7 linked regions of the Homo sapiens genome follow. The protein of the gene in region 2 purifies or fractionates together with the protein of the main gene of each other region. This does not show direct contact. Each region holds a gene or a part of one and is shown on either strand. Other genes may lie near its edges. The genes, in order: PKN2, LETM2, NUCB1, LMAN1, TMTC3, MORC2 and PPT1.

Region 1 (3,500 bases), on a different chromosome or scaffold from region 2:
CATATCAAATATTTTTATTTCAGTGTTTATTGATGTAAGGACTAAGTTATTGTAATGTTATAGGAATTCATTTCTTTTCATGATTTTAATCACTGCAAATTGGAAAGTCAGATAAATGGTGCAATTAAAATTTTTTTTTCCTTTCTAGCAAAACCTGTGATAAGTCCTCTTGAACTTCGGATGGAAGAATTAAGGCATCATTTTAGGATAGAGTTTGCAGTAGCAGAAGGTGCAAAGAATGTAATGAAATTACTTGGCTCAGGAAAAGTAACAGACAGAAAAGCACTTTCAGAAGTAATTTTAAATAAAAATTTTTATTTGGTTTAATAAATACATTATTCAAAGTATGTGATTATTTAAATGACAACAATTGTCTTTTCCCTGTGCAAGGCTCAAGCAAGATTTAATGAATCAAGTCAGAAGTTGGACCTTTTAAAGTATTCATTAGAGCAAAGATTAAACGAAGTCCCCAAGAATCATCCCAAAAGCAGGATTATTATTGAAGAACTTTCACTTGTTGCTGCATCACCAACACTAAGTCCACGTCAAAGTATGATATCTACGCAAAATCAATATAGTACACTATCCAAACCAGCAGCACTAACAGGTATGTAGTGTATAGCCATTGTTTTTTGTGTGTATTTTTGTCTATAACTGGTTCTGATTTAATAATTGAAAGAAAAACCTGTGCATAGATTTTTAAAATTATGATAAGATACACATAGAATAAAATTTGTTGTATTAACCATTTTAATTTTATTCAATTTGGAAGCATTTGCTATATTCACAATATTGTGTGACCATCACCACTACCTAGTTTCAAAGCATTTTCATCACCCCAAAAGGAAACGCATACCTGTTAAGCAGTCACTCCCCATTCCCCCTTCCTCCCAGCTGCTAGCAACTACTAATTGTCTGTCTCTACAGATTTGTCTATTCTAGATTTGTCATATGATAGAAATTATATAATTTGTGACCTTTTTTGCCTGGCTTCTTTTACTTAGCATATTGTTGTCAAGGTTCATTCATGTTGTAGTATGTATGAGTACTTCACTCACTTTTAATGTCTGAATAGTATTCCACTTGTGGGAATATTCTAAAATTCAAAACTTTTTGTGCACCCAACATGATGCTCAAAGGAAATTCTCATTGGAGCATTTTGGATTTGGGATTTCAGATTTCCAGATTAGGGATGCTTAACCAGTAAGTATAATATAATATAAACATTCCAAAATCTGAGATACTTCTGGTCCCAAGGATTTCAGATAAGGAATACTCAACCTATACTATATTTGATTGACCTATTTGTCAGAGCATATGAGTTCTTTTTACCTTTTGACTGTTGTGAGTAGACTGCTATGAACATTTACGTGCAGGTTTTTGCTTGAACATCTGTTTTCAATTTGGGGGTATATTCCTAGGAATATAATTGCTAGGTCATATGGTAGCTATATCTAAGATTTTGAGGAACTGTCAAACTGTTCTTCTCAGCATTTACATTATTTTATACTTCTAACAGTAATGTATAAAGTGGGTTTCAGTATCTCCAGATCCTCACCAACAGTTAATATTTTTTTTCATTCTTCTTTGATCGTGTTCTAATAGGTCCATTATTGGAAGTATGGTAATATATCTAACTATGTCTGTAGAACTGTCTGTATTTCTCCCTTCAGTTATGTAAATTTTTGTTTCCTATATTGTGGGCTGTTTTGCTAGGTTCATGTATGTTTACAATTTTTATATCTTCTAGACGGATTGACTCCTTTACCTTTACCTTAACTCCTTTATAATGTCCTTCTTTGTCTCCTATAACAATATTTAATTTAAAATCTGTTTTGTCTGATTTTATAACAGCTACCCCTACTTTGTTTTGGTTTTGTCTTTGGGTTCAAATGAGTCTCTTTTAGATTATATATTATTGTATTCTGTTTTATAAGATCCATTCTGTCAGTCTTTTTTTTTTTTAATTCATTTTTATTGAGACAGAGTCTCACTCTCATTGCAGCCTCCCACTCCCAGGTTCAAGCAATTCTTGTGCCTCAGCCTCCCGAGTAGCTGGGATTACAGGCATGTGCTACTGCACCTGGCTAGTTTTTGTATCTTTAGTAGAGACAGGGTTTCACCATGATGGCCATACTGGTGTCAAACTCCTGGCCTCAAGTGATCTGCATGTGCCACTGCACCTGGCTAATTTCTGTATTTTTAGTAGAGACAGGGTTTTACCATGATGGCCACACTGGTTTCAAACTCCTGGCCTCAAGTGATCTGCCTGCCTTGGGCTCCCAGAGTGCTGTGATTACTGGTGTGTGCCTCCACATCTGACCAGTGTTTGCTGTTTATTTAATAGTTTAAGACAGTTATCCAGATGAGGTTGCATGCACCTGTAGTCCCAGCTACTTGGGAGGCAGAGGCAGGAGAATTGCATGAGCCCAGGAGTTTGAGGCTACAGTGAGTCATGATTCCACCACTGCACTCCAGCCTGGGTGACACAGCAAGACTCCGCCTCTAAGAAAGAAAGAAAGAGAGAGAAACATTTAAAGTAATTACAGACAGGATGTAATAATCCTGGTGGTAACTACTGAGAGGTAGGTTAAATTTAATAGGTTTGTAGCACAGTCCCCCCACAAAACTGCCATCACTTCATAAGCAAGCAGCAAATTTAGAGTTTCCAAGGCTACATGCACTCCTGACCAACTGTCTACAGATTCCAGGATTTCTACTAGCATCTCAGCTCAGTAATTTGCAGGAACAAATCATAGAACTCAGGGAAGCACTATACTTAGGATTACGTTTTTATTATAAAGGATACAAATTAGGACCTTCATGGCTCACTGCAGCGAAAAGAAAATAAACATAAAGGGGGAGATCTGAGAGGATCTCAAACACAAACCTTATGTGTCCTTAGGATATATCACCCTCCTAACACATCAATGTCTGTCACCAACCAGGAAGTTCACTTGAGCATTGGGTGTGCAGAATTTTCATTGGGGCTTTGTTAACATAGGTGTGATTGAGTGAATCATTGGCCACATGATTGAATTCAATCTCCAGCCTTGTGCCCCTCCCTAGGTCAGGAGGTCAGACTGATAATGTGGCTCAAAGCCTCAACCTCCTGAAGATATGATCATTCTTTCTGGCATGGCCAGCCCCCATCCTGAAACTGTCTAGAGGCCCACCATGAGTCACCTTACCAGGTGTGGTCTAAGGTATCCACTATGAATAACAAAGGCACGCCTATCACTGGGGGAAATTCCAAAGGTTTAGACTTAGAGGCTGTCTTCCAGAAACCAGGGACAAAAACCAGCCAAATTATATACAACAAAAGGGCTTATTTCTGTCATTTTGCGGGTTTTTTTTTTTATGCAAGTGTTTATCTTTTTTTCTCTGAGTTCTAGTACTACCTTCTTTTGGTTTTGATTGAATTTTTCTACTCTGTTTTTATTTACTTATTTTTGAGACAGGATCTCTCTTTGTTGCCCAGGCTGGAGTACAGTGGTATG
Region 2 (4,028 bases):
CATTGCACTCCAGCTTGGGCAATAGAGCGAGATTTCATCTCAAAAATAAATAAATAAATAAATAAATAAATAATGGTAACAGACCCTAATGGGACACGAATATGCCCTAAGACTGGCTGTTCATCAGCCATTTTACTCGCTTTACATCTAAGGACCTCACGTGATGTTCATCAATTACAGAGATGTCACTCTAAAACCAGTACATCTTCTGGCTGGGCACAGTGGCTCACGCCTTTAATCCCAGCACTTTGGGAAGCCCAGGCTGGCGGATTACCTGAGGTCAGGAGTTCAAGACCAGCCTGGCCAACATGGCGAAACCCCATCTGTACTAAAAATACAAAAATTAGTGGGACATGGCGGCGCATGCCTGTAATCCCAGCTACTTGTGAGGCTGAGGCAGGAAAATCTCTTGAACCTGGGAGTTGGAGGTTGCAGTGAGCCAAGATATCATGCCACTGCACTCCAGCCTGGGCAACAGAGTGATAATCCGTCCCAAAAAAGAAAACAAAAACAAACAAACAAAAAAAACTACATCTTCTTTTCTTTTTTTTTTTTGAGATGGATTTTTACTCTTGTTGCCCAAGCTGGAGTGCAGTGGCCCAGTCTTGGCCCACTGCAACCTCCGCCTCCCAGGTTCAAGCGATTCTCCTGTCTCAGCCTCACAAGTGCTGGGATTATAGGTACCTGCCACCATGCCGGCTAATTTTTGCAGTTTTAGTAGAGACGGGGTTTCACCATGTTGGTCAGGCTGGTCTTGAACTCCTGACCTCAGGCAATCCGCTCGCCTTGGCCTCCCAAAGTGCTGGGATTACAGGTGTGAGCCACTGCACCCAGCCTCCAAGAAACTTTTAATTGTGTACTAAGCCAATCCTTTCCATCTAGAAGGATGAAATTCAGGCCAGGCGAGGTGACTCACGCCTGTAATCCCAGCACTTTGGGAGCCCAAGGCAGGCGGATCACCTAAGGTCAGGAGTTCCAGAGCAGCCTGGCCAACATGGTGAAACCTCGTCTCTACTGAAAATACAAAGATTAGCCGGAGGTGGTGGCAAACACCTGTAATCCCAGTTACTTGGAGGCTGAGGGAGGAGAGTAGCTTGAACCCGGGAGGCAGAGGTTGCAGTGAGCCGAGATTGCACCATTGAACTCCAGCCTGGGCGACAGAGTGCGACTCCATCTCAGAAAAAAAAAAAAAAAAGAAGAAGAAGAAGAATTACGTTCATATTGGGGGGTAACTCCAATGCTTACCTTGTTCGAGCAATAGCCAGAACTGAATTATAACTGTAGAAGGCCATATTTATTTTTGTCTCAAGTAGTTAACATAGGGACCTAGGCAAAAGGAGTAAGTAAACAATTTAGTAGTTTAAAAATACATCAATTAAAAGACATCAGGATTTTAGTGTTTTTAACTATTGCAAAGGTAGAACATTTGCATAGTTAAGGTACAAAACCTCCTTCAAGCTCATTTCCAACAATCAGATATTTTCGTAGCTCTGGACTTGAGAATGGTACTTTGAGATTCCAACAAACGGTAATGATCTCTAAGATGATGATGCTCATGAAGATGGTACAATCTTCAGAGACATTTTGATTTCTGGTCAATAGTATCTAGTAATGCAACTTCAATGATTGCCAAGTACTTAAAAGTAGAGCAATACATATCTATCTGTAGCCTTAAAATATAGGTAGAAAGTGAATATTCTGAATTTCTTTTCAGTTAGCATTGTTCTATATTTAGGCAAGTTGTCCCAAACCCTGAATATTGGACGTACCCACTAATCTAATTTATGTAGCAGTGGATGAAGGTAGACATGCAACCTACTAATCGCTCAAGTGGAGGTAAAACTGTTTCCCTTGCTACTGATTCTCCAGAGCCCAAACTGAGCTTTGAACCTGTAAATAACCTTCACCAAAACCCATCTCCATCCAGGGGCGCTTTTCTGCTAAGGGCCGCGAGGAACGGCAGAAGAGCTGACATTCCCAATGGCAGCTTTGCTCTCTTGTGGTTGGGAAAAGAGTTCCAGGAGCTCTCCTGAATAGAAACCTTAGCCACAGAGCTGACATTTTCAACAGGGGCTCGAAACCTGTGGACCCACACTAACGGTGGGTGGTGTTTCGCGGGCAGGAGACGACACCTGAGGCGGCGGTTAATCCGCTCGGGCCCGGGCGCTCCCGGGCGGCGGACACCACTCGCACTCGCATTGGCGCCGCCCCACGCCCGCTGCTCCCGGGCTCCCTCGGCTTTGCCCATCACCACACGGGAGCAAAACGCGCCCTCGGCTTCCTCGCCCGGCGGCTTCGGCGCGCCTGATGTGTGCGCGGCCTGCATGCGGCGGGGTCTGGGGGATATGCTTTGGTTTTCTGGTGCGGAGGTGGGACAGGCACGGGAACGACGACCCTCGTGGATGATCGGGGTTGTTGGAAATGAAGCCGAGGAGAAAGAAGCAGGGCCTGGGACGGAAAAAAGGACGGAGCGCGCTGTGCGGGGAAGGGGGAGGAGAGGCCGAGCTTCAGAGTTCGCGCTGTGCTGGGGAACTGGCGGGGATGAGGTCGTGGGTGGAGGAGAGCGCGGTGGGAACTGGAAGCTGTCAGAAGCCTGGATCATGCTCTGATGAGAGGAGCAGGATGCGGACCGAGCGGGATCCGGAGGAAAAAAAGGCAGCGCGGCCCACCAGGTCGCGGCCTGAGGGCTGGGCCTGCCCACCCCTACCTCCTCGGCCGGGCTCCGCGGAACGGCCGCCTAGGTCCTCCCAGCTCCTTCCCGGGACCCCCAAGCTAGAAGGGCCCGAAGCCAAGTCTCTACGGTTCCGCCTCTTTCCTCGCCCCTGACGTCACTCTGAGTGACGACATCGCCAACCAATAAGCTCTCAAGTTCTGGGGAGGGCGGGCGTCCTTCACCTTAGCAGCCCAGGAAGCCGCAAAGTCGCGTTTACATCGCCGAAGTGACTTCTTTGTGGGGCTTGGTTTAAGGCGCGTTGGTGCTGGGGGGCCCGAAGGTGACGTTTTTCTGCCAGTCCACACTCCGCAGGCAGTGGCTAACGCCCGAGGAAACCCGTGATTGAAGACTGGATTAAACAGGCTCTTTCCCTGACAGCTTAATATGTCTGATAGTCGCCATGGTAACCATTTCGGAGTCATGAATGACATCACTTTGATGTATTCTCCCTCGGACCCTGCAAATCCGGAACTGCCAGAGGGGCGCTGAGAGGATTTGATGGTGTCGCAGAAAGGGCGGGAATCGGAAGGAGCGCATTCCTCTCCCTTCCTCTCCAGAGGCTGGAATACTGTGAAATCTTCATATGGAAATCTGTATTCTACTAAAAATATTTGCTTTCTCAATGGTCCCTTAACAAGTGTTGTTTGTGATTAATAATTTGTATAGAAATCTCAGCATATAAAATGTATGTTATAGTAGCTGTGAAATGACAGACACTGCAGGTTTGAGGGCACTTCAGTTCCTAGGATGGCCAACTGAGCCATCTTGGGAAAATGAAACATCTAGAAATATTCTCATTCCCCAGTTATCTTTTCCCATCCATTTTATCTGGCTCCAGAAGAAAGAGTTAAAAATTTTTTTTATTTAGGCTGGGCGCGGTGGCTCACGCCTGTGATCCCAGCACTTTGGGAGGCCGAGGCGGGCGGATCACAAGGTCAGGAGACAGAAAACATCTTGGCCAACATGGTGAAACCCTGTCTCTACTAAAAAAAAATACAAAAATTAGCCGGGCATGGTGGCGTGCGCCTGTAGTTCCGGCTACTCTGGAGGCTGAGGCAGGAGAATCGCTTGAACCCGGGAGGCAGGGGTTGCAGTGAGTCGAGATCGCGCCACTGCACTCCAGCCTGGGCGACAAGAGCGAGATTCCACCTCAAAAAAAAATTTTTTTTTTCTTAGTGGCTCTACTCGACCACCATACAGCAAGGAATCGCTTTCTCACGGAGAATACGTCTCCTGACATGTGAGCTGACCACAGACTTTACTCATCTGGGCTACACATTTTTAAGAATGGAAGATGGCGGTATTAAACGTCAGT
Region 3 (3,500 bases), on a different chromosome or scaffold from region 2:
GCCTGGCATATGATAGGGGCCTGGTGAATGTTTGTTGAATGAATGAATGCATGCATGGGCGGGTGGGTAGATGGATGGGCAGTTGGATGGATGGGCGGGTGGATGGATGGGTGGGTGGATGAGTGGATGGATGGATGGATGGGTGGTTGGATGGATGGGCGGGTGGATGGATGGGCGGGTGGATGGATGGGTGGGTGGATGAGTGGATGGATGGATGGGTGGGTGGATGGATCGATGGGTGGGTGGATGGATGGATGAGTGGATGGATGGGCGGGTGGATGGATGGGTGGGTGGATGAGTGGATGGATGGATGGACGGGTGGTTGGATGGATGGGCGGGTGGATGGATGGGTGGGTGGATGAGTGGATGGATGGATGGGTGGGTGGATGGATGGATGGGTGGGTGGATGGATGGATGAGTGGATGGATGGGCGGGTGGATGGATGGGTGGGTGGATGAGTGGATGGATGGATGGATAGATGGATGGATGGATGGATAGGTGGGTGGATGGATGGGCAGGTGGATGAGTGGATGGATGGATGGATGAGTGGATGGATGGATGGATGGATGGATGGGTGGGTGGATGGATGGATGGGTGGATGGATGGATGGATGGGTGGGTGGGTGGATGGATGGATGAGTGGATGGATGGGTGGATGGATGGATGGATGATGGGTGGATAGATGGGTGGGTAGGATGTATGTATGGATGGGTGGGTGGGATGTATGGATGGATGGGTGGGTGGATGCATGGATGAATGGGTGGATGCATGGATGGATGGATGGTTGGATGGATGGATAAAAGTATGATTCACAGCTTCCCAACAAGTCATGTCCACTCTGAGCACCCACTCTGGGCAGTATTGGGCTGGGTGTTCACTGATGTGATTTTCATTTCATCTTTGCTGCATATGTGGGAAAAGGTAAAAACTGAGTCCCTTGTCAGCTGCCCCAGGGAGCAGGCCATAGCAGTAACAGGAGTGAGGGTGGGGATGGGGATGGGAGCAGGGGCTGCTATGTCTGTCCTTGTTGCCTCAGGACACAGGCCTGTACTACCACCGGTACCTCCAGGAGGTCATCGATGTACTGGAGACGGATGGGCATTTCCGAGAGAAGCTGCAGGCTGCCAATGCGGAGGACATCAAGGTGCGGCTGGGGGAGTGGGGGCTGTGGGAGGGGTACGTGCTGGGAGGGCAGAGTTCAGGGGAGGACTGGTTTCTTTTTTTTTTTTTTTGAGACGGAGTCTTGCTCTGTCACCCAGGCTGGAGTGCGATGGTGCGATCTCAGCTCACTGCACCTCCACCCCGCAGGTTCAAGCAGTTCTCCTGCCTCAACCTCCCAAGTAGCTGGGATTACAGGCGTACACCACCATGCCTGACTAATTTTTGTATTTTTAGTAGAGACGGGGTTTCACCATGTTGGCCAGGCTGGTCTCGAACTCCTGACCTCGTGATCCTCCCATCTCGGCTTCCCAAAGTGTTGGGATTACAGGCATGAGCCACCATGCCTGACCATACTGGTTTCTTCAAAGGGGCCACATGGCTCCAGCTGTGCCTGTATTTGAAAATCACCAAAGTAAGACTCAGGGAGAAGTTGCTTCTTGGGGTCACAAGCTGGGAAGAGCTTTGGGGAACACAGAATACGTGTTTAGTGCAGAGTCCCGTGGGCAGGCTTTCAGTCGCAGCTCCGCCGCTTACCAGCTATGGGGCCTCCCCTCACCGTGCCTCAGTTTCCCCACCTGTAAAATGGGAGACATCATAGAACCTGCTGCACAGTTCGGATTTGGATTTTCCAAGGGAAGGATTTTGGGGTTTGGATTTTCCAAAGGAAGATGTGTAAAGGGTTTGGAAGAGCATGGTGACACTCCTTAGCAAGTGTTGTGGGAGGGCTGCGTCAACAGAATGCTCCTATGGTGCCTTCTACAGAGGAAGAATTCAAAATAAGGGAGGTGCTGGTGTCCCTTACATCACCATGAACTCCCATATCAGGCCTCTAGGAGCACCATCATTGTCCCCATTTCACTGAGTAGGACACTGAACCCTCGTATCAGGATCTGTCCTTCTCATGGACCTGGGTCTCACCACCATGCACGGCTAATTTTGTATTGTTTCTAGAGACAGGGACTTGCCATGTTGCCCAGGCTGATCTTGAGATCCTCCCACCTCAGCCTCCCAAAGTGCTGGGATTACAGGCGTGACCCACCGCACCTGGCCCCTAAACATGTGGCTTGATGAATGACAGGAGATGGGGCAGCACAGGTGGGCAGGGCCTTGAATGCCAGGCTGACGGGCTGGGAGCTGTCCTTCCTGGAGACTCTGAGGAGCTGGGGGACTATAAGCAGGGAAGGGGCAGTATAAGACTGGGGCATGAGAAAGCTTATAAGAAGCTTCCAGAGAAGACAGAGAGCAGGCCCCCAGGCTGACCAGGGTCTCCTCTCCTGTCAGAGCGGGAAGCTGAGCCGAGAGCTGGACTTTGTCAGCCACCACGTCCGCACCAAGCTGGATGAGCTCAAGCGACAGGAGGTGTCACGGCTGCGGATGCTGCTCAAGGCCAAGATGGACGCCGAGCAGGATCCCAGTGAGCAGGGGCAGGGCGGGAGGGACAGGCAGGGAGGGGTGGGGAAGGGTGGCCTCACTCCCGGCCTCCAGGTGGTTGTGTGCTAGGCAGGTGAGGCCTCCCTCCCCGCTGCGAAATGTGCTGAAATGTGCGTGGGAGATTGCCCCAGTGTTCCTCCCAGCATGATTTAATATTAACATTACAATGTTGTTTGTTTATATTCTGTTTCCATTTGTTGTTTTTAAAAATCTTTATCATGGGCTGGGCACAGTGGCCCACGGCTGTAATCCCAGTACTTTGGGAGGCTGAGGCAAGCAGGTCACCTGAGGTCGGGAATTGGAGACTATCTGGCCAACATGGTGAAACCCCATATCTGCTAAAAATACTAAATTAGCCGGGCATGGTGGTGCACGCCTGTAATCCTAGCTGCTCAGGAGGCTAAGGCAGGAGAATTGGTTGAACCCGGGAGGCGGAGGTTGTAGTGAGCCGAGATCGCACCATTGCACTCCAGCCTGGACAACAGAGTGAAACTCTGACTCAAAAAAAAAAAAAAAAAATTGTCATTTAAAATTCTGGTAGAGGCCGGGTGCAGTGGCTCACGCCTGCAATTCCAACACTTTTTGAGGCAGGAGAATCACTCGAGCCCAGAAGTTCAAAACCAGCCTGGGCAACATAGCAAGACCCCTGTCTCTATAAAAAATATTAAAAAATAAGCTGGGCATGGTAATGCATGCCTGTGGTCCCACCTCCTTAGGAAGCTGAGGTGGGAGGATCGTTGAGCCTGGGATGTCAAGGCTATAGTGAGCCATGACTGCGCCACTGTACTCCAGCCTGGGCGACAGAACAAGATCCCATCTCAAAAAAAAAAAGTTGAAAGAACTTCAAACTTTTAGAAAAGTTGTAAGAGTAGTACAGAAAACTCCCAAACACCCCTGACCTGGCTTCTC
Region 4 (3,500 bases), on a different chromosome or scaffold from region 2:
TGCAAAAGACATTAGAAAATAAATTTCAATCGATCCATTTTATGACTACTATTCAGTTTTGTTTCATTATTATAAAGAGTAATTTTAAATAACGTTTCCTACTTGGTGTCAATATACAATATATTTTACTTAAAAAAATGAGTTTTGCCCCACTATGTGTCAAAAGTTTAAAGAGAGAAAAATCTGATAACTTTCTATGAAAACCTTTCTAAAATGGAATATGGTTTGCCTTCTCTCAAGAAGACCTAGGGAGTCATCATTACTCCCTTGGAATGGTTCATGCAGCAGAGGGATCAGACTTGTTCTCAGATCCCAGTGACAGCTAAAACCAAGAGGTTAAATTTACAATTTTATCTGCAGCTGGTTGAGAATTAAACAGATTGTCTCAACAAGTAGTGAGCTCCTCTTAATTAAATTAGTGAGGTATCTGGACTGTCACAGGTTAGCAGAGAACAAAAGTGACAGAAGTCATACTGACAAGGCAGAGAAGGAAAAAACTAAAAAGATGTACGTTTCTACTTTGCAAAATGTATATTTGAAGGAATGATCCTAAATTTCTTAACAGAATCTTAGAATCCTAGGCAAGCACAGGAATCCACCTGACACATGAATGCTTTTCTCATTATCCCAGTCAAGCAGTGGTTCAGCCTCTTCAATACATTTCATTTCTAATAATCCTCTCACGAGTCCCACCCTAAACAACAGTCACTGAGGTTCAGGGTGGTTGCAGGAGAAGGCCCAAGGCACCAGAGTAAGGGAACTTGAGTCATTACTTCTAGAGTCAAAATTTTGTCAGAGACTTAAGATTCAGTCACACAGGCAAAATGTTCTGGTATTCTGTCCAAATTTTCAGCAAGAGAATAAAATCTGTCAATATGAAGAGTTACTCTCTATATACTGTAGAATGGAAACATGTGAACTAAAAATTAGTTTAAAATAATTAATTTTAAAAGATCATTTAGCATTTGGTTCATATTAATATGTTTCCTGTGATTAGTAATATTCCTATTTCATTTTACATCATTTACAACTGGTCCTCCTCCACAGAGCCTTTTAAATTAGAATCAACAATCAGGAAGTTATTTGCCTTTGAGTCTTAAAAAGACTGTAGATTATTACATTCAAATTACAATACTAAAATCCTCCAATTGTTCAGTATTTTTTTCCTTGAATTCTAACAAACTGAAAATCCAGCATGAGTCTTCATTGTCTAGTTCCAATTATTTTTATTTATTTATTTATTTTTTGAGACAGGGTCTCGCTCTGTCGCCCAGGCTGGAGTGCAGTGGTGTGATCTCGGCTCACTGCAAACTCTGCCTCCAGGGTTCACGCCATTCTCCTGCCTCAGCCTCCCGAGTAGCGGAGACTACAGGCTCCCGCCACAAAGCCTGGCTAATTTTTTTGTATTTTTAGTAGAGGCGGGGTTTCACCGTGTGAGCCAGGATGGTCTTGATCTCCTGACCTCGTGATCCGCCCGCCTCGGCCTCCTAAAGTGCTAGGATTACATGTGTGAGCCACCGCGCCCGGCCCCAATTTTTTTTTAAAGGACGTAACACATTTCATTGTACTGTGAGTTAGCAGGAATGTTAGGAAGGACTGTAACTGAAAGCCTAGGTACAAACTGTCCACTGATTATTACTTCTTTATGAGATCATCAATAACCTTCCTTATTCACCTTATGGTTTCAAACCATTGTTAAAGACTACACTTGCAATATTTAAGATCTCTTGCTTTGGCTGTGTTTCCCCCACCAACAGCACTTATTGCTTTCAACCTCCTCTTACTTTGTTTTTCCCTCCAATGTGGAAACAACTGGGACAAGCTAGGGTGCAAGTACTCATGAAAATAAATACTTCTTGAGCACTTCACATTGGCACAATATTAGGAACTAGGAGAAATACAGGATATGCCTATTGTGAGAAGTTTACAATCATATTGATAAGAAGAGATATACATATAGTTAATAAGCAAATCAGTACAACATATCTCAAGGCCAAATAAGCATTAGAGAAAAAAAAATACTCTAAGAGTTTAGGAGAGACAGATCATTATGAGCTGTTTAGGAAATCTGATAGAAAAGGGATCTGAATTTGTGTGCTCAAAGCTAAGTATGACTTTAACAAGTAGAAAGAAAAGGAATTATTACCAGACTGAGATGTACAGAGAGGTGAAAACCAATAAGTAGCAGTCACGTGTCCAGCCAGTCTCTTCAAAACGTGTACCTGAAAACACTAGCTCCATGATCACTCATAGACATTAGGTGAAAAAAAATTCCATAGTTAAGTCAGTCTGGGAAATGTGAGGTCTAATAAAGGTTTATTTATCCTTTCTTTATAAAGGATCCTTCATAAAGAAATCTTTAATGTGCTAATATGCAGAGTAGTGACCAATCTCATCAATTGTGGAACCCTTTCTGGGGAGTACGTTTTGCAAGGCTATTGTTTTGGAGTGCTGCCAGGGCTCACAGCCTCACGGTGTTGGGTCACACGGACAGTCTGCACCCACCATGCTTGATGTCTGGGCTTTGCTACATGCAGGTAAGCAAGACTTACTGATGACTCTAATGAAACTGTACAGGGTGAATAATTATAGTGGAATTCAAACCCAAGCTAATTATAATACATTGGACACTTGCTCTATTCTAAGATCTCTAAATTAGCTTGGAATTAAGACTAAGCCAATACAGTTTTCCACAGAACTAACTTTCTCAGAGATTTAGACCCAGGAGTGTAAGTCTAGCTCATGATTTAGGTGAAAGAAAAATTCATACACTATTTTTTTTACTTTTAAGTATTATATAACCAGGTATTAATGGCATCTTTAAAAAGCAAAGTTTACAATGCATAGTGATCTTAGTTATCATAACTGCCAGTTAGATATCTCCACCTATATGTTATGCTAACCTCAATTTACCTACAACTAAACTCATTACCAACCCTCTGATTTCCCATTCCTCCCCCAAACAGATAAAACACAAACAAATGTGCTGCTTCTTTGCTAGTAAATAGTACCAATTAGCTGTCCAATTGGCTATATTCAGGAACTCTCCTTGACTCAACAACTGTGTTCACCCCTAACCCCAAGAAAACTGGTACTAAGAATACTGGGACCTAAGTCATCTTTCTAAATTGCAAATCTGATAATTTCACTTCCTGCTTAAAACCCTTTAAACATTTTTAAAAGCTTCTTATGGGTTAAACTACAGGAAGCTGTGCAAGGCCTGTTACTGCCCTTTCAACCTCACTGCTCACTGATCTCTTCTATCTCCCAGCCACACCAAACTACATGCCTTTCCAAAATATTTCAAGCTCTCTCAAGGGCCTATGCCTGCTTTCTGTGCTTGGAGTACACCCACTCACTCGCACACACACACACCCTCTTCCCCCAACTCCCAGGAACTTCCTGATCTCCCTGTAGGGCACAGCTCAACTCTGAGAAAATGTTCCTGCCCTTCCCCACCTCCACCTGGCAGTTACAGGATTCTAACCACAGGACCGCTT
Region 5 (3,500 bases), on a different chromosome or scaffold from region 2:
CTTTTTTTTAATCCTTTATACAGGTTTGATAACCCAGCTGCTGTAAGCCCAACTCCTACAAGGCAACTAACTTTTAACTACCTCCTTCCTGTGAATGCTTGGTTGTTATTAAATCCTTCAGAGCTCTGCTGTGATTGGACCATGGGAACAATACCACTTATAGAGTCATTACTAGATATTCGAAATCTGGCCACATTTACTTTCTTTTGTTTTCTGGGGATGTTGGGAGTATTCAGTATCAGATACTCTGGTGATTCCTCCAAGACTGTTTTAATGGTAAGAAACTTTTCTTAACTTCCAAATGATGTTAACATTCAGTTGAATAAGTAAGAAACTACCTTTAATTCAGCAAAAGCATCTTTTTAGAAGCACTCCTTTCTTTGTTCAACGGCATCCCAATTTATAAACGTATTTGAGTTTATCCCAAAATTCTCAGTTAATTTGCAGGCATAATTTGACATATGTTCAGCACATAAAATATTTGTTACCTTTATCCAACTAGATTATACACTTTTTGAAGAAATTGATTATATTGTATATTATTTGTTTTCTTGGCACAGAGAAGAACATCATATAAGATATACAACTAGAAATATAGAGCTTTTCAGTTCTCATGAGCAAGGTGGTTTTTATTACTCCCTTAGATAGCTTTCACTATGTTCGGAGAACTCTGATTATTTGAACAGTTTTTTTTTTTTTTTTTTGGTGGTGGTTTTTCTGTACTGTTTTTCTTCTTATTTTCTTACCCTGTGTCACTTCATACTCATAAGAGTTATGTTTTCTCTCCCTTTTAATTATTGAAGACAGGCTGGGTGCGTTGGTTCTTGCCTGTAATCCCAGCACTTTGAGAGGCCAAGGCAGGTGGATCATTTGAGGCCAGGAGTTTGAGACCAGCCTGGTCAACCTGGTGAAACTCTCGTCTCTACTAAAAATACAAAAATTAGCTGGGTAGCTGGGTGTGGTAGTGGGTGCCTGTAATCCCAGCCACTCAGGAGGCGGAGGCACAAGAATCACTTGAACCAGGGAGGTGGAATTTGCAGTGAGCTGAGATTGCGCCACTGCACTCTAGTCTGGGCGACAGAGCAATACTCTTTCTCAAAAAAACAAAAATAAAAATAAAAGTTTATTGAAGACAATAGTACATTTTCTCAGGCATTTATTATATGTCAGAAAGTATGTTTAATGAATTGCAGATACATAATTTTTTGCTGTAGCTGCTAGATTGATTTATTCATTCAATAAAAACTTAGACTTTACCCTTTGTACAGTGCAGCATTTTAGGTGCTGAGGTTATGATAGTAAATACACAGTTCACGTTTCCAGAGAACTTACACAGTTCACGTTTCCAGAGAACTTACATTCTAGAGAAATTTGGATGTCTGAGATACAGAGTAGATTTAAAGATTGTGTTGTCTATTATCCTTGAACATGTTGAGTTTGCATTACTGTTGAAACATCCTGTTGGACATTTTGAACAGCACTTTATGTCTGGAGTTCATAGAAGATAGTTAAGTTACACATAGAAATCTTATCCATTAACATAGAGGTGGTAATTGAAACCAGGATGTAGATAAGGTGAAATGTAGATGAGGTTATAGAGCAGCCTTTCTCAACTGGGGTTTTGTCAATTCTGTCAAAGATGGTAGCTGTTAACATTCTAGATGCACAGAAGTTCACTCATACTCATAATGGAAGCCTTAGGGTATTTGGTCTTAATTCTCCCCAGAAAACAGTTGAGTGGGCTAAATACAGTGAAAAGAGAAGATACCTACTACTAGGTCTTGAGAAACTCCTATATTTAGATGTTGAAGAGAAGGATCCTGAATAGAAGACATATCGAATGAAGAGAAAAGTAGGAAAGTGTATTACAGACCAAATGGTTAACACTAACAGATGCTCTTGAGGGGGAAAGTGAGATCTAGAATCTGTTGGATTGGACTTCTTTTAGTCTGTAGGTACTTAAATGAAATTTGTTTATGTGCAGTGAGTGATTTGATGAGGAAGTGAAGAGAGCTAGTATAGACCTGTAGGAATAATTTAACTTTGACTGTTTCAAAGGATGGGATAAACTTGATTAATTCCTCCCTAAGGGAAGACTATGCTGGTCAGGCAATGGTTTCAAGTATAACAAACTGCTTATCTTATGTAGGGCCTGGGGAAGCATTGAGATCTGGCATTGGTAGACCTTCAGAGGTAGGAGGGAGCAATGTCAGGGAGAGACTGTTGATTGGTTGGCATATAGAAGCATTTTTATTGGCGTACTCAGCTACTCAGCTGACTTTTTTGAATGCGGATATCCCTGATGGGTTGGCTTGCAGGAACATATTTATTAAGCTGAAATGTTGATTGGTTAAGTGGTAGACTTAAGTTGATTAGTTAAGTGGGCTACTTGATACTATGGCAACAAAATCTTTTCCTAAGATCATGAGAACTTGTTTTGTACCTGAGGTATGTAACGAATAGGGAAGGTAGCTTAAAAAATGTATTGTTAAAGATGTTTAAGGCTGGAGAGACAAGAGCATGTTTAAATATAGATAGGAAGAATACAGTTGATTAGAAAGTGGTTAATAAATTAGAGAAGGGATAATTGTTAGTGAAGTTTATGAGGAGCAGGAGATAGGGAGCACAGGTTTGGCCTGAGATAGAAGAGACACCCCTTATGTTACAAGAAGAAATGAATGTGGATGTTGGTAGGTTTAGTAGCAGGAAATTAAAGAAATTCTTGTTTTATGGCTTCAGCTTTCATTGTAAATTAGGAAATGTAGTTGCCTGCTAAAACTGACATGGGTCAAAAATTTGAGAAAAGTAGTGAAGATTCAAAGCAGTCAAGAAGAGTGGAAGGAACTTTCCAGAGAAACCTAGAAATCCCAAACAGTCTTAAGGATAAATTTGAACTTGGTGCTCATGCTTTTATGACAGTATTAATCTGTTCAGCTTTGGGACTTTCTCTAGCAGTGCGTTGCCACTCTGGTAAATACAGACAAAAGAAATAAACGGTAGAATACATCTAAAGCTGGAGTTTTCCTAAAAGAAAGGTTAAAAAAAAAGGAGAGGTAGGGGAATTAAGGTTTCAGCAAATAAAATAATGGTGTATGTAATGTAAGCTGAATTTTAAATGTATATAAAAATGGAACAGCTGTGGCCTTAAGCATAACTCTATTTTCAGTATAGTCCTAATAAAGGTGCTATTTTTTTTATGGTGATGTTTTCTGAAGATCTCTGGAAGGGATAAGTAGAACAAAGGAGCACCTACCAGATACCATGTTAAGCACTTATTAGATAAGATGTCATATATATGTCAACAGCATAATGTAAGTTGTTATTAATCCCCATTTTATTTGTAAAGAACTAACTGGGTTCAATCGCTCATGCCTGTAATCCCAGTGCCTTGGGAGGCAGAAATGGGAAGATCACTGGAGGCCAGGAGTTTGGGACAAACCTGGGCAAGACAGTGAGATCCCACCTCTAAAAAAAATTTTTAAATTAGCCAGGCATGGTAG
Region 6 (3,500 bases), on a different chromosome or scaffold from region 2:
ATTTGGTGATTGATTGATTAGTAGAAGGCGAAAGCGAAGCAGGGGAGTCATGGATGACTCATAGGTTCTGCTGTGGCAGTTGGGGAGTGGGGTCTCTGGAATTGGGAAGAATGAAGAGGGGAAGTATGGAGGGGAAGAGTGTAAGTTTCTTCTGGACATGCAAAGTGCAGTCTGGGTCTGGCATTTGGGGGAAGTCTGGGGGCTTCAGCATTCTTGGTAGCAAACGAGGTCACCTAATGGAGAGAATAGAGTGAGAAGAGGATCTGGGACCTAGAGCATGTCAATATCTAAAGGTCGGGGAGAGGAGAAGGGGGCCAGAGGGACAAAGGGGTAGCCAGAAAGGTAGGAAGAAAACTGGGCAAGTGTACCATTGAACTAAAGGAGAAGTGTTCCTGAGGGGAGGGATGGGGTGCCCATGGGAGTGAAAGCCAATGTTTAAAGTGATGCCATTGTCACCTGGGATGGCTGTGAAGAATGGGAGGCGTAGTGAGGTACAGGTTTATAGAACACAAATGGAACTCGGTTCCCGTGGTGGAGAGGCTAGGTTGAGATTTTTTCCTTACTTGGTGCTAGAAGGTCGCTATTTTGGATTGTACTCTAGTGCAAACTCAGCCAAGATTTCAAAATAAGATCATTTTCAGTTGAGGAGGAATGTGTCCAGACCAGCCCTTGGGTTGAATAGTTGCAGCACAAAGCTTCTTAGAAACCAGCAAAATGGGCCGGGCCTGGTGGCTCACGCCTATAATCCCAGCACTTTGGGAGGCTGAGGCGGGCAGATCATGTGGTCAAGACCATCCTGACCAATATGGTGAAACCCCGTCTCTACTAAAAATAGAAAAATTAGCTGGGCATGGCAGTGTACGCCTAGTCCCAGCTACTTGAGAGGCTGAGGCAGGAGAATCACTTGAACCCAGGAGGCGGAGGTTGCAGTGAGCCGAGATCGTGCCATTGGTGGAGGTTGCATTGAGCTGAGATCATGCCATCGCACTCCAGCCTGGGCAACAAGAGCAAGACTCCGTCTCAAAAAAAATAAAATAAAAAAACCCAGCAAAATGTCTCAGAACTCTTAACAGTTTGTCACCCCAGCACTTGTTAAGATTACAGAGTCCCTTTTTCCTAAGGGTTTGAACCCCTGAGGTGCTTAGCCTGGCCTGCTCTGCAGAGGAAATCCTTCAGGCAGCCATCTGCAGGGCTCTGCAAGGGCTGCGGCCTCATAACCACCGAGGGAGGAGCCTCTGGGGAAGTGGCATATGAGGTTGGGTTTTTGAAGAAAGAGTAGGATTTTTTTAAAACATCACTTAGACATTATTTAAATTAAATTTCACATAAATGGAAGAGTGTATTGAAATATTTATGCAGTTCAGAGGACAATTTTAAAGGCAACACCTGTGTTGCCACCATCACAGACTGATGTTAGAAGTGTCCTGTGTGCCCTCATCAGTCATATTTCTTCTTGTGCCCCCGAAGGAACTGCCTTCAGGTAACTTTTGTGATAATGATTTCCTTCTTTTTCACTATAGTTTGTCACCCTTGTATGCATTTTTAAATAATAGTTTAGTTTTGCCTATTTGTGAATTTTTTAGAAATGGACTCTTACTGTAGGTATTTTTTGTATCCTATTTCATATAACACTGTGTTTATGTTGTTCATCCATGTTGATGCTAGTAGTGGTTAGTTCATTTGTATCACTATATAGTGTTCCATTGTACAGTTTAATTTGGCCACTCTAGAATGGATATTTGGGTTATTTTTATTTATTTATTTATTTTTGAGATGGAGTCTTGCTCTGTTGCCCAGGCTGGAGTGCAGTGGCACGATCTCAGCTCACTGCAACCTCCGCCTCCCAGATTCAAGCAATTCTCCTGTCTCAGCCTCCTGAGTAGCTGGGGCTACAGACGCACGCTGCCACGCCCGGCTAATTTTTTGTATTTTAGTGGAGACCGGGATTCACCATGTTGCCCAGACTGGTCTCAAACTCCTGAGCTCAGGCAGTCCATCCACCTCAGCCTCCCAAAGTGCTGGGATTACAGACATGAGCCACTGCACCAGGCCTGGGTTATTTTTGTACATGTTTACTGGTACATATGTACAAAAGTTTCTCCTAGGGTATGTACCTAGGAGTGGAATTGCTGAGTTTTAGGTTATGTTATGTGTATTTACTGATTCACTAGATAATTGCAAATATATTTTCCCTAGTGGTAAGAGTAGAATTTTTACCAAATTAAGAAAATGACCAGGGACGTCCCAAGCAGGGAACTTCTCATGCAGAGACCCTAAGCACATAAACCAACATCTCCTGAAGGAAGTAGTCTTGTGTGGCTGAGTCTTGGGAAGAGGCAGAAGCCCTGAAGCTCACAGAGCCTCTGGTGCCAGGCTGTGGAGCTTGGGCCTCACCTACAGGGCAGTGTGGAGCTGCTGTGGGGAGGGACAAGAGAGATGCACATTTGGGAGGAAGGCTGTTCTGGGGCTTCCCTTAAAGTGCCTGCTCATGTTTACTCCACAGGTGATAGTCCCACTGCCCACCTGGAATGCTCGGACCCGGGAACCTGTCACAGACAATGTAGAGAAATTTGCCATTGAGACAGAACTCATCTATAAGTACTCTCCATTCCGCACTGAGGAGGAAGTGATGACCCAGTTTATGAAGATTCCTGGGGACAGCGGTAAGTAGGCTTTGAGCCTGTAGCCCCTAGAATCTGGGAGCTCCAGAATCACAAGTAGTGTGGGGGTGGGCCGGGGGATCTGGCAGGACAAAAGATTTCTGTTTCTCAGGAACATTGGTGATCATCTTCAATCTCAAACTCATGGATAATGGAGAGCCAGAACTAGACATAATCTCAAATCCAAGAGATATCCAGATGGCAGAGACGTCCCCAGAGGGCACGTGAGTGTGGCTGGGAAGGGAGGGAGGCCCTGGAACTGGCGTTTGTGCTCTCAGGAGATGGCTTCAGGGAAAGAGGGGAGAGCACATTCATTGCCCAGTGTTCTGTGGTAGGGTAGTATGTAGGGCCAGCTCAGTTGCCTGTGGGGTGCCTGTGCTGAGGACGTGAGAGGGGCGGGATGTGGTGCTCACACTAAGGGAGCACCAGTTCAGGGCAGCAGCAGAAGTCAGTACCTAACATGGAAAGGTGGAGAGCCTGCAGAGAGGATGTTGTGCCCTTGGTCAGGCCTGTTGTGGAGCAGGTGACAGCACTTCTCTGTTTTTGCCCTCTCCAGGAAGCCAGAGCGGCGCTCGTTCCGTGCCTATGCCGCTGTGCTCTATATTGATCCCCGGATGAGGATCTTCATCCATGGGCACAAGGTGCAGACCAAGAGGCTCTCCTGCTGCCTGTACAAGCCCAGGTAGGGGCCAGTGCCCCTTGGCCTGCTGTCTCCCATGGGTCGAGGATGTGGCCGCGTTTCTCTGGGGCATTGTTAGAGGGATGCTGTATAAGAGGCTCTGGCAGTGCTGACTACGTTTGGGACTTTAAGTTGCCTGTGATTGGTCACAGGGTCAGTTC
Region 7 (3,500 bases), on a different chromosome or scaffold from region 2:
TCCTTTACACCTCAGAGCACTAGGTACTCCTGAAACACCTGACTCATGTCCAATATGGGTGAAGCTTGTTAGGCTCTTGATTATGTGCTCTAGCTTATTAGGCACTGGGTTACAAAAATCCACTACATCCTGAAACCTTATGGTTTCCAAACAACAAGAGAAACCTCATGTCTGATTCCCTTCTTTTGATAAAAAGGTTTTAAAACTAGCTGCCTTGGCTGAGGTACAGTCTGCTACAAATCCAGGAAGCCTCCATGCATGATGAGGGGCATTCCTTTTTTTTTCTTTGAGACGGGGTCTCGCTCTGTCACCCAGGCTGGAGTGCAGTGGAGCAATCTTGGCTCACTGCAACCCCTGCCTCCCAGATTCAAGCAATTCTCCTGCCTCAGCCCCCTTAGTAGCTGGGATTACAGGTGTGTGCCATCACACCTGGCTAATTTTTGTATTTTTAGGAGAGATGGAGTTTCACCATGTTGGCCAGGCTGGTCTTGAACTCCTGACCTCAGGTGATCCACCCACCTCAGCCTCCCAAAGTGCTGGGATTACAGGCGTGAGCCAGTGCGCCTGGCCAAGGGACATTACTTTTAAACATTAATAGATGTGAAATCCTGTTTCTAAATTACGCACTGACAAGGGAGGCTCCTGCAGGAGGTTGAGTGGGACTAGAGTTTTGAATTTTGTTTAGCAGTAGGTCCTGTATCTTAAGCAGAAGTTGCAGTAATTTGCCACCTCCAGTTCTGGGGCCTTCTACACTTTAAGGATTTTTTTTTTTTTTTTTTTTTTTTTTTTTTTTTGAGACAGTCTTGCTTTGTCACCCAGGCTGGAGTGCAATGGTGTGATCTCAGCTCACTGCAGCCTCCACCTCCTGGGTTCAAGCGATTATCCTGCCTCAGCCTCACTAGTAGCTGGGATTACAGGCACACGCCACCATGCCTAATACTTTGTTTTGTTAGTAGAGACGGGGTTTCACCATGTTGGCCAGGCTGGTCTTCAACTCCTGACCTCAGGTGATCCACCTGCCTCAGCCTTCAAGAGTGCTGGGATTACAGGTGTGAGCCACCACGCCCAGCCCTAAGGATTTTATATTGGAGACAGACTCTCCAAAATGCTAAGTACTACATCTGAACCAATCACCGTCTACTAGAATTCCTCCATGTTATTTCAGAGGTCATTTGTCTCCTCTTGGCTTGGCTTTTCTTTTGCACTGGGTGCCTCAACTTGGGTGGTGAGGTAAAAAGGGAAGCTAGAATCTGATTTGAGAAAAAAAAAAAAAAAGGCTTGAGAAATTACAGCTAAGAACTTCCTTACTGTGAAAACTCAAAATGATGTTGGCCACGGCAGAAGCACCATTCTGGCACTGTCGTAACTGCTTATCTTCCCAACCAGAGGTTGTTCTCCAGCATCTAGGCTATGGGTAATGACATTTTCAACTCCAGAATATGAAAGTGTCCAGGGTTTGTTACCTAACGGTTGGATATGGTTTTTCTGTTTTGTTCTTTTGAGACAGTTTTGCTCATTGCCCAGGCTGGAGTGCAATGGCATGATCTCAGCTCACTGCAACCTCCGCCTCCCGGGTTCAAGCGAATTCTCCTGTCTCAGCCTCCCAAGTAGCTAGGATTACAGGTGCCCGCCACCATGCCCAGCTAATTTTTGTATTTTTAGTAGAGACAAAGTGTCATCATATTGGTCAGGCTGGTCTTGAACTCCTGACCACAGGTGATCCGCCTGCCTTGGCCATCCAAAGTGCTGGGATTATAGGCGTGAGCCACCGCGCCTGTCCTGGGTTGGATGTTTTTTAAGTTACCTAGCTAATGTTCTGTCTTTGGCTCAGTCCCACTTACCTATGGCATTCTGAGGCAGTGTCGTCTATGGCTTGCCCACCTATAGGTAGTCCTCTGACTCTGAGCTTTTCAAAAATCAGAATCTAGAACACTGTATAGAGCAATCTCAATTGCATATCTATTTTTAATACTTAGAAAAAACTGGCCGGGTGTGGTGGCTCACGCCTGTAATCCCAGCACTTTGGGAGGCCGAGGCACGTGGATCACCTGAGGTCAGGAGATCAAGACCATCCTAGCTAACACAGTGAAACCCCATCTCTACTAAAAATACAAGAAATTACCCAGGCATGGTGGCATGCGCCTGTAATTCCAGCTACTCATGAGGCAGAGGCAGGAGAATCGCTTGAGCCAGAGAAGTGGAGGTTGCAGTGAGCCGAGATCGCACCACTGCACTCCAGCCTAAGCAACCGAGCAAGACTCCGTCTTGAAAGAAAGAAAGAGAAAGAGAGACAGAGAGAGAGAGAGGAAGAAGAAGAAGAAGCGGGGGGGACAGGAGGAGGGGGAGGAGAGAAGAAAGAAAAGAAAGGAAGAAAGAGAAAGAAAGAAAAAGAAAAAAGAGAAAGAAAAAGAAGTAGGAGATATTCTTTTTGGCATTTTTGAAAATACACCTCAATTTTAATACTCAGGACAAACTGCATTTTGAAAATATATCTCAAGTTAACGTACTTACCATTTTACTCCAAAACTTCATTAAGCTTTTTAATTAATTATGGCCTTTCCTTCTGCAGGACCGCCTGGGGCTAAAGGAAATGGACAATGCAGGACAGCTAGTGTTTCTGGCTACAGAAGGGGACCATCTTCAGTTGTCTGAAGAATGGTTTTATGCCCACATCATACCATTCCTTGGATGAAACCCGTATAGTTCACAATAGAGCTCAGGGAGCCCCTAACTCTTCCAAACCACATGGGAGACAGTTTCCTTCATGCCCAAGCCTGAGCTCAGATCCAGCTTGCAACTAATCCTTCTATCATCTAACATGCCCTACTTGGAAAGATCTAAGATCTGAATCTTATCCTTTGCCATCTTCTGTTACCATATGGTGTTGAATGCAAGTTTAATTACCATGGAGATTGTTTTACAAACTTTTGATGTGGTCAAGTTCAGTTTTAGAAAAGGGAGTCTGTTCCAGATCAGTGCCAGAACTGTGCCCAGGCCCAAAGGAGACAACTAACTAAAGTAGTGAGATAGATTCTAAGGGCAAACATTTTTCCAAGTCTTGCCATATTTCAAGCAAAGAGGTGCCCAGGCCTGAGGTACTCACATAAATGCTTTGTTTTGCTGGTGATTTAACCAGTGCTTGGAAAAATCTTGCTTGGCTATTTCTGCATCATTTCTTAAGGCTGCCTTCCTCTCTCAGTACGTTGCCCTCTGTGCTATCATCTTATCATCAATTATTAGACAAATCCCACTGGCCTACAGTCTTGCTTCTGCAGCACCCACTTTGTCTCCTCAGGTAGTGATGAATTAGTTGCTGTCACAAAAGGAGGGAAGTAGCACCCAAATTAAGTTGCTTAAGAGAGGAAATGTACATCTTGTATAACTTAGGGAGCGAAGAAAATGTAGGCGCGAAAGTGAAAAGTGAGGCAGCTAGTTCTTCCTATTCCATTCTCGACCAACCTGCCCTTTCTTAATATGACTAGTGGTCTTGATGCTAGAGT

Evidence for each region.
Region 1: the proteins of LETM2 (region 2) and PKN2 purify together in Homo sapiens (affinity purification with mass spectrometry; one large-scale study listed by BioGRID and IntAct). This does not show direct contact.
Region 3: the proteins of LETM2 (region 2) and NUCB1 purify together in Homo sapiens (affinity purification with mass spectrometry; one large-scale study listed by BioGRID and IntAct). This does not show direct contact.
Region 4: the proteins of LETM2 (region 2) and LMAN1 purify together in Homo sapiens (affinity purification with mass spectrometry; one large-scale study listed by BioGRID and IntAct). This does not show direct contact.
Region 5: the proteins of LETM2 (region 2) and TMTC3 purify together in Homo sapiens (affinity purification with mass spectrometry; one large-scale study listed by BioGRID and IntAct). This does not show direct contact.
Region 6: the proteins of LETM2 (region 2) and MORC2 purify together in Homo sapiens (affinity purification with mass spectrometry; one large-scale study listed by BioGRID and IntAct). This does not show direct contact.
Region 7: the proteins of LETM2 (region 2) and PPT1 purify together in Homo sapiens (affinity purification with mass spectrometry; one large-scale study listed by BioGRID and IntAct). This does not show direct contact.

What each region holds. Positions count from the first base shown.
Region 1 is NC_000001.11:88,771,273-88,774,772, forward strand, and holds part of PKN2 (serine/threonine-protein kinase N2), read left to right. Parts: intron 1-148; coding exon 149-294; intron 295-390; coding exon 391-607; intron 608-3,500. UniProt on the Homo sapiens protein: PKC-related serine/threonine-protein kinase and Rho/Rac effector protein that participates in specific signal transduction responses in the cell.
Region 2 is NC_000008.11:38,385,248-38,389,275, reverse strand, and holds the start of LETM2 (LETM1 domain-containing protein LETM2, mitochondrial), read right to left. Parts: upstream 2,801-4,028; 5' UTR 2,708-2,800; intron 2,135-2,707; exon of another isoform or gene 1,770-2,134; intron 1,327-1,769; 5' UTR 1,293-1,326; coding exon 1,246-1,292; intron 1-1,245.
Region 3 is NC_000019.10:48,903,312-48,906,811, forward strand, and holds part of NUCB1 (nucleobindin-1 precursor), read left to right. Parts: intron 1-1,035; coding exon 1,036-1,143; intron 1,144-2,441; coding exon 2,442-2,574; intron 2,575-3,500. UniProt on the Homo sapiens protein: Major calcium-binding protein of the Golgi which may have a role in calcium homeostasis. Acts as a non-receptor guanine nucleotide exchange factor which binds to and activates alpha subunits of guanine nucleotide-binding proteins (G proteins).
Region 4 is NC_000018.10:59,349,266-59,352,765, forward strand, and holds part of LMAN1 (protein ERGIC-53 precursor), read right to left. Parts: intron 1-3,500. UniProt on the Homo sapiens protein: Mannose-specific lectin. May recognize sugar residues of glycoproteins, glycolipids, or glycosylphosphatidyl inositol anchors and may be involved in the sorting or recycling of proteins, lipids, or both.
Region 5 is NC_000012.12:88,166,307-88,169,806, forward strand, and holds part of TMTC3 (protein O-mannosyl-transferase TMTC3), read left to right. Parts: intron 1-23; coding exon 24-276; intron 277-3,500. UniProt on the Homo sapiens protein: Transfers mannosyl residues to the hydroxyl group of serine or threonine residues.
Region 6 is NC_000022.11:30,941,275-30,944,774, reverse strand, and holds part of MORC2 (ATPase MORC2), read left to right. Parts: intron 1-2,503; coding exon 2,504-2,663; intron 2,664-2,772; coding exon 2,773-2,884; intron 2,885-3,216; coding exon 3,217-3,342; intron 3,343-3,500. UniProt on the Homo sapiens protein: Essential for epigenetic silencing by the HUSH (human silencing hub) complex. Recruited by HUSH to target site in heterochromatin, the ATPase activity and homodimerization are critical for HUSH-mediated silencing.
Region 7 is NC_000001.11:40,073,253-40,076,752, reverse strand, and holds part of PPT1 (palmitoyl-protein thioesterase 1 isoform 1 precursor), read left to right. Parts: intron 1-2,569; coding exon 2,570-2,692; 3' UTR 2,693-3,500. UniProt on the Homo sapiens protein: Has thioesterase activity against fatty acid thioesters with 14 -18 carbons, including palmitoyl-CoA, S-palmitoyl-N-acetylcysteamine, and palmitoylated proteins. In contrast to PPT2, PPT1 can hydrolyze palmitoylated proteins and palmitoylcysteine.